Linked DNA regions of Homo sapiens. Each later gene encodes a partner of the first gene's protein in a complex. Each region holds a gene or a part of one and is shown on either strand. Other genes may lie near its edges. A codon is read from its position in the direction of its gene.

Region 1 (3,824 bases):
GATTAGAAACACATGTCTAAATGAAGGAGCGTGCAAGATGAACTCAGAGTTCAAGAAATGTTTTTTTGGATGGCAGTATAAAATTCCCAGGTAGGAAGCCACTTTCCCGCAGATGAGAGGCTGGCGGGACCCACTGGTGTAATGAATGACCTTCACTGCACGCCTGCAGCGGAGGAGACGTCTCCACCCTGCTGTGTTCTGCAATGCTCCTTCCAGGCCCGCTTCTCCATGACCCCCATTCCAGTCCCTGTCCACCTGCACCTGCGCCTGCACCGCCACAGGCCCCTCAGTAGAAGGAGGCGCCCTCATAGGCGAAGGCACCAGGGGAGTGGGGGATCGAGGCTGGGCTGGGTGCCTGCAGCCGGCAGAACCAGAACTGCCGGAGAACATGTTTCAGGTGTGTGCGGAACTTGACCCCCACGAAGACATAGAGCACCGGGTTAAAGCAGCAGTGGGAGAAGGCGAGGTTGCGGCAGATGAGCAGGGCGTATTCTAGCTGCTGTTTGGCCTCGCAGCTCCGGATGATCTGGGTCCGAAACAGCGTCTGCAGAAACAGGGTGAAGTTGTAGGGACCCCAGCTGAGGAAGTAGGCCACCACGATGGCGAAGATGAGCTTGACCGTGCGGTGGCGCCGCTTGGAGCGTGAGCGGAACAGGGTCCTGAGGATCTCCACGTAGCAGAACAGGATAATCCCCAGGGACAGCAGGAAGAAGAGGTTGTGCTGGTAGACGGAGGTGAGGTACCACGTGAGTTCGGAATAATCACAGCCCGAAGAAAGCACCTTGTGGAAGATGGTGTCGAGGATGGAGGACAGGATGCTGGCTACCCACACAGCCATGGTCACCAGCACCCGGCAGCGGAGGGTGGGGACGCGCAGGGTGGAGAGGGGGCTCACTACCGACAGGTAGCGGTGGATGGTCATGATGGTCAGGAAGAAGATGCTGCTGTAGAGGCTGATGGAGAAGATCATATTGAGGAGTTTGCAGAGGAAGTCTCCCAGCACCCAGCCCCAGTGGTATGGGGAGATCCACACAGGCAACAAGCAGGCGAACACCAGGTCTGAGAGGCACAGGTTGAGGATGAAGATGTTGGTGAGGGACTCCAGGCTCTCATACTTCACCAGGACCCACAGGACCAGGCTGTTGCCCACTAGGCTGAGGAGAAACACCAGGCAGTATAGGACAGTGGTGGCGAGGGTAGCAAAGACCCAGGCCTGGTTCTCACACGGCTGGCTCTGAAGGTCATAGTAAAAAAAGGTGGTGCTCTCTGGGTTGCCTGAGGACTCCATCTGGACCAGATGGCAGGGACGTTTAGAGCATCTGAAATGATAGAGACATGGAGTTTAAAGCCATGTGGTGGCTGGGTACAGTGGCTAACACCTGTAATCCTAGCACTTTGGAAAGGCCAAAGGGAGAGGATTGCTTGACCCCAGGAGTTTGAGACCATCCCAGGCAATATAGTGACACCCCTGTCTCTACAAAAAATTTAAAAATTACCCGGGTGTGGTGGCGCATGCCTATAGTCCCAGCTACTCAGGAAACCGGGGGGTGGGGAAAGATTGCTTGAGCCCAGGAGGGCGAGACTGCAGAGAGCTGTGATCATGCCACTGCACTCCAACCTAGGTGACAGAGAAAAACCATGTTTCAAAAACAAACAAAAAACCCAAAAAAGATGCCAGACTCTTAGTTAATTCTCTCCTGGATCAGAGAAAAGACCTGGAATGGGAAGGGGATTCTCTACAGAGTGTATTTTCCCCACAAGAGATAGCTTTCCAAGACCATTTCAAAATATTCCTATCTGTCATGTTGGTATCTTATTGCTACAAAGAGTCTATTCTATCAGGCTTAAGGGCTGCTTTAATGTTAATACTGGTCAGCTGTGCTGAATTACAAAAGGAGGAGAGTATAATGAGGCATGTCTGACTACCTATTCCCATCATGGCCTGAACTAATATTTCTTTAGAATGCCCTTCCTTGGCTGAGGAGTCCGTTCAGTTAGTTGTGAGGCTTAGAATTATATTTTTTATTTATAAAACTTAAATGCTTGTTAAGACAAACACCAAATAACCAATCAACACTTTTCAGAAAAATGAAACAAAATCCAGAGTCTACACAACATAACAATGTTTAGGACACAATCCAAAATTACTCAGCATATAAAGAAATAGGAAAACATGACCCATACTCAAAAGAAAAGACAATCAAGCAGCTGCCTGTGAGAGGGGCCACATGTTGGAATTTGTAAATATGTATCAAAATGTAACTAACTATTATACCTGTTCCCAAGGAAATAAAGGAAACTATATTCATAATGAATGGAGAGATAGAAAGTCTCAGCAGAGAAAGAAAAGTTATATAAAAGACCCAAAAGGAATTACAAATCAATAACAAGATATCAAGAAAAGCTTCAATAATTTGGAAATAATTTTAAAAACACCAGCGCGTGTGACGTCATGGCGCCGTGCGGGGTCGCGGCGGCGGCGCAGGGGGCGGGCCCGTGGCGCGGGGCCTGAGGAGGAAGTGGAGAGATTGTTGCTCCCTCTGCGCCCAGAGAGGACGCGGCTGCGTCGCGCTCCCCTGCGATCCCCTCCATGTTCCCTGGCCCCACCGCTCCCCTTCCTAAGGCTGCTGCTGTCTATGGAAGTAATGGAAGGACCCCTCAACCTGGCTCATCAGCAGAGCAGACGAGCCGACCGTTTATTAGCTGCAGGCAAATACGAAGAGGCGATTTCTTGTCACAAAAAGGCTGCGGCATATCTTTCTGAAGCCATGAAGCTGACACAATCTGAGCAGGCTCGTCTTTCACTGGAATTGCAAAGGGATAGCCACATGAAACAGCTCCTCCTCATCCAAGAGAGATGGAAAAGGGCCCAGCGTGAGGAAAGATTGAAAGCCTAGCAGAACACAGACAAGGATGTAGCTGCCCATCTTCAGGCATCTCACAAACTCTCTGCCGAGGATGCGGAGGGCCAGAGCCCCCTTTCTCAGAAGTACAGCCCTTCTTCAGAGAAACGCCTGCTTGAGATTCAGGGGATCTTTGACAGGGATCCAGACACACTACTATATTTACTTCAGCAAAAGAGTGAGACAGCAGAGCCATGTATTGGAAGCAAAGCCCCAGAAGATGATAAAACAATTATAGAGGAATAGGCAACCAAAATTGCAGATTTGAAGAGACGTGTGGAATTCCTTGTGGCTGAGAATGAAAGATTAAGGAAAGAAAATAACTAAAGGCTGAAAAGGCCAGACTTCTAAAAAGGTCCAGTAGAAAAGGAGCTGGATGTAGATGCTGATTTTGTAGAAACGTCAGAATTACGGAGCTTGCCGCCACATTCAGAAACTGCTACAGCCTCCTCAACCTGGCAGAAGTTTGCAGCAAATGCCGGGAAAGCCAAGGACATTCCAATCCCCAGTCTTCCTCCCTTGGATTTTACATCTCCAGAACTTCCCCTTATGGATCTCCCTGAGAATATTCTGAAAGGATTTATGAATAATTAAAATGGAAGGCCACAGAAGAGGGGAGAAGAGGAAATAATACAGTAATAGTTAATCCAGCAAAAAAAAAAAAAAAAATGAAAAGGGAAAACCACGTAGAAGGGGCATCCTGGTCCCGGAAATGTTTCATCATCTGGTGGACTGTGGGAGAATAGGCATTGCCAGGACTTGGGAAACAGTCACTGTGAAATGCGTTGCATATCTCATTCACTGACTTGAGCTAATGATTCCAACTTGATAAACACTAAACTCATGGAGGTTCAGTTTCTGCTGATACAAACCAAATGGCTACTTGGAATAATTTTTTTCAAGCAACAGTTATTTTTCTTA
Region 2 (2,750 bases), on another chromosome or scaffold:
TTGATGCTGCTTTTCTTCCATGTAAAGCTCTGCTTTCCATGTGAACCATAATGTATTTAAATAAAGTGCATTCAACCAACTTAATACAAGAGATAAAAATAGAATTACCTTAATGATGTGTATAAATAGGAACATGATGTGATTAAAAAATGATTTTTTTTTTTTTTTGAGATGGAGTCTTGCTCTGTCGTCCAGGCTGGAGTGCAGTGGTACAATCTTGGCTTACTGCAAACTCAGCTTCCTGGGTTCACTCCATTCTCCTGCCTCAGCCTCCCGAGTAGCTGGGACTACAGGCGCCCATCACTATGCCCAGCTAATTTTTTTTTGTATTTTTAGTAGAGATGGGGTTTCACTGTGTTAGCCAGGATGGTCTCGATCTCCTGACCTCGTGATCCGCCTGCCTCGGCCTCCCAAAGTGCTGGGATTACAGGCTTGAGCCACCGTGCCCGGCCAATGATTTTTTTCAAAGGCTGGATTATTAAAAATAATATGGACATAAATTTACTTTTTAAATGTCTTTATTGGATACATAATTTTAAACCAAAAGACAATTAAGTTGATATAAAATCTAGTCTTTTTTTTTCTTCATAATTGTTAGAGGGACTTAAATCAGGTTTAATCATTCAGGTTCTTCCAAACTTAAAACAAAAATAACATACTTTTCTAAAATATGTGTCTGGACAATTTCAACTAATTATAAATGAATTTATTCCCATATTCCAATATAGTAAACTTTTATTTGATGCACACTGTATCAAGTAGAAAATAATCATTCTCACAGATGTGTGTGTGTGTGCATACACATTCCAAGGACAAGGGTAGCTAAAATCTGCACATAAATCTAATTTTTCTCAGATCGATCCCATTAAACTAATGAACTCAAATCTTATGGAAAGTTTGAGAATCTAGTAAACTTCAAATGTATTGATTAGTAGATATGATTTTATTGACTGTTAAAGAGCAAACCATTTGCAATCTTCTGTCTTTATCAAAAAACAAAACATGCATGTAAGGCCTTGGAATATTTGATACTCTATCCTGATTTAAGTCCTGCAGATAGCAAATTCCTGTCCTCCTCCACACTCCAGGGAGCTACTCTTTCCAAAATAAGTTCAGAAGCTTTTTTAATGCATGACTGTGCTCAGCCCAGTCCTGTGGGAGGTGTGGAGAAAGAAAGGAATTTGGCTAGGGGAATTGAAACATATTAAAAAAACAAAACACAACACAATAACAACATTAAAAAAAACCCCACTAATCTTTTGATTTGGCTGCAGACTAAAGAGATGAGTCTGTAAACTGGATTTAATAATTTTCCAGTATCTTGAAGGGTCAACTCCCCCTCCATGTATTGGAACTAAAAATAAAGAGAGCTGCTAATTTCAAAACCCTGTTTTAGAGTATAGATCTTAAAATGTGTATGTCTCTCTTTTATTATAGCTGACATATTTAAAGTGAAAATGAGATGGGTTTTCCCCCCACAGGAAAGGCTATATTACACCAAACCAAACGATAGCATTTAAAACTGGAATAGTCCAAGTCTTTACTGAGGCCCACCATTTCCCAAGAAAGTCACTGAAGGTGTGATTTATTCAAGACACCAAGACCCACATCTTCCACATTCAAATTTTAGCATTCTATCCTTTTTAGTTTTTGTATGTGTTTCTCTAAAACTTGGGAACATTTCCATGCAATGCAAATAGAGTTGTTGTGGAAGAAAAATAAAGCATTTCATTTCCCAAATACAAATATAATGCAAAGACACATGAGTACCTATTTTCCAAAACCACATTAAAAATGTAAAAAAAAGTAGAATTTTAAAATTATATAACCCAATATATCACAAATCAGTTCAACATGTAATTTTTAAATTCTGTGTATCTGAACTCTTGTATTTTACACTAATAGGCCAACTCACTTTGGACTAGCTACGTTTTAAGTGCTCTGCATTCACACCTGGGTAGTGGCTGCTGTGTCTGTGCAGTTCCTATGTTTGTGAAATGGAGGGTTAACACACAGAGAGCTCTTTACTTCTTTACTGCACTGGCTTTTCACAGCCATTGACATGCTAATGTGCATCATGCATACTTATTAACATCTGTTCAGGCAATGCTGTTGGACATGCTGCACTACACCATGTGGCACCCTTGTGAAAAACTTCTTTATGCCATTGGATTTTGAAGATATGGCTAAGAAATGACACTGGATTTTGAAGATATGGCTAAGAAATGACACTGGATTTTGAAGATATGGCTAAGAAATGACACTGGATTTTGAAGATATGGCTAACAAAGGTCTTAACTCTAGATTTTACACCCAGCTCTGCCACTTCCTAGATAGCCAACATTGCACAAAATACTAACCTCTCTTAAATGTGTTTCCTTATATAGAAAATGGAAATTTTACCAATATTGCAGGACTGCTCTGATGACTAAATGAGAGCATTAGTAAGGTACCCAGAAAAGTACCTAGCACACAGTAGGCACTCAATAAATTATGTATGTATGCATTTTCTCTATATATTTATGTATCTCTAACATATTTTAAATAATGGAGGAGTTCGTGGTTTTGAGTAAATCTTACTATATGAGTACATTTTTCAAGGTCTTGATTTAGCACTATTGTATAAATCTGCATCTAGAAGCCTTAAGTGTAGGAGGATCAGAGGTGGGGCTCTCAGAAAGAAGAAAGGGCACTTTTTACTGGCTTTCCTTATGCCAGCTTCATACTGAAGCTTTCCATTGCAGCTTCAG

The links.
Region 2: the proteins of XCR1 (region 1) and GNAI1 are in contact, whole or in part, in a cryo-EM structure (PDB 9AST), measured with the Homo sapiens proteins. Residues at the interface, in NP_001019815.1 of Homo sapiens: Glu63 (codon at 1,102), Thr66 (codon at 1,093), Arg127 (codon at 910), Ser130 (codon at 901), Val131 (codon at 898), Pro134 (codon at 889), Leu135 (codon at 886), Leu138 (codon at 877), Val140 (codon at 871), Arg146 (codon at 853), Tyr205 (codon at 676), Leu212 (codon at 655), Ser215 (codon at 646), Ser217 (codon at 640), Lys218 (codon at 637), Arg219 (codon at 634), Arg222 (codon at 625), Thr223 (codon at 622), Leu226 (codon at 613), Ile227 (codon at 610), Val290 (codon at 421), Gly291 (codon at 418), Val292 (codon at 415), Lys293 (codon at 412), Phe294 (codon at 409); in NP_002060.4 of Homo sapiens: Glu28, Ala31, Arg32, Leu194, Asp315, Phe336, Thr340, Asp341, Ile343, Ile344, Lys345, Asn347, Leu348, Lys349, Asp350, Cys351, Gly352, Leu353, Phe354.

The regions. Positions count from the first base shown.
Region 1 is NC_000003.12:46,020,660-46,024,483, forward strand, and holds part of XCR1 (chemokine XC receptor 1), read right to left. Parts: intron 1,619-3,824; exon of another isoform or gene 1,497-1,618; intron 1,320-1,496; 5' UTR 1,289-1,319; coding exon 287-1,288; 3' UTR 1-286. UniProt on the Homo sapiens protein: Receptor for chemokines SCYC1 and SCYC2. Subsequently transduces a signal by increasing the intracellular calcium ions level. Receptor for XCL1/Lymphotactin.
Region 2 is NC_000007.14:80,223,932-80,226,681, reverse strand, and holds the end of GNAI1 (guanine nucleotide-binding protein G(i) subunit alpha-1), read right to left. Parts: 3' UTR 501-2,750; downstream 1-500. UniProt on the Homo sapiens protein: Guanine nucleotide-binding proteins (G proteins) function as transducers downstream of G protein-coupled receptors (GPCRs) in numerous signaling cascades.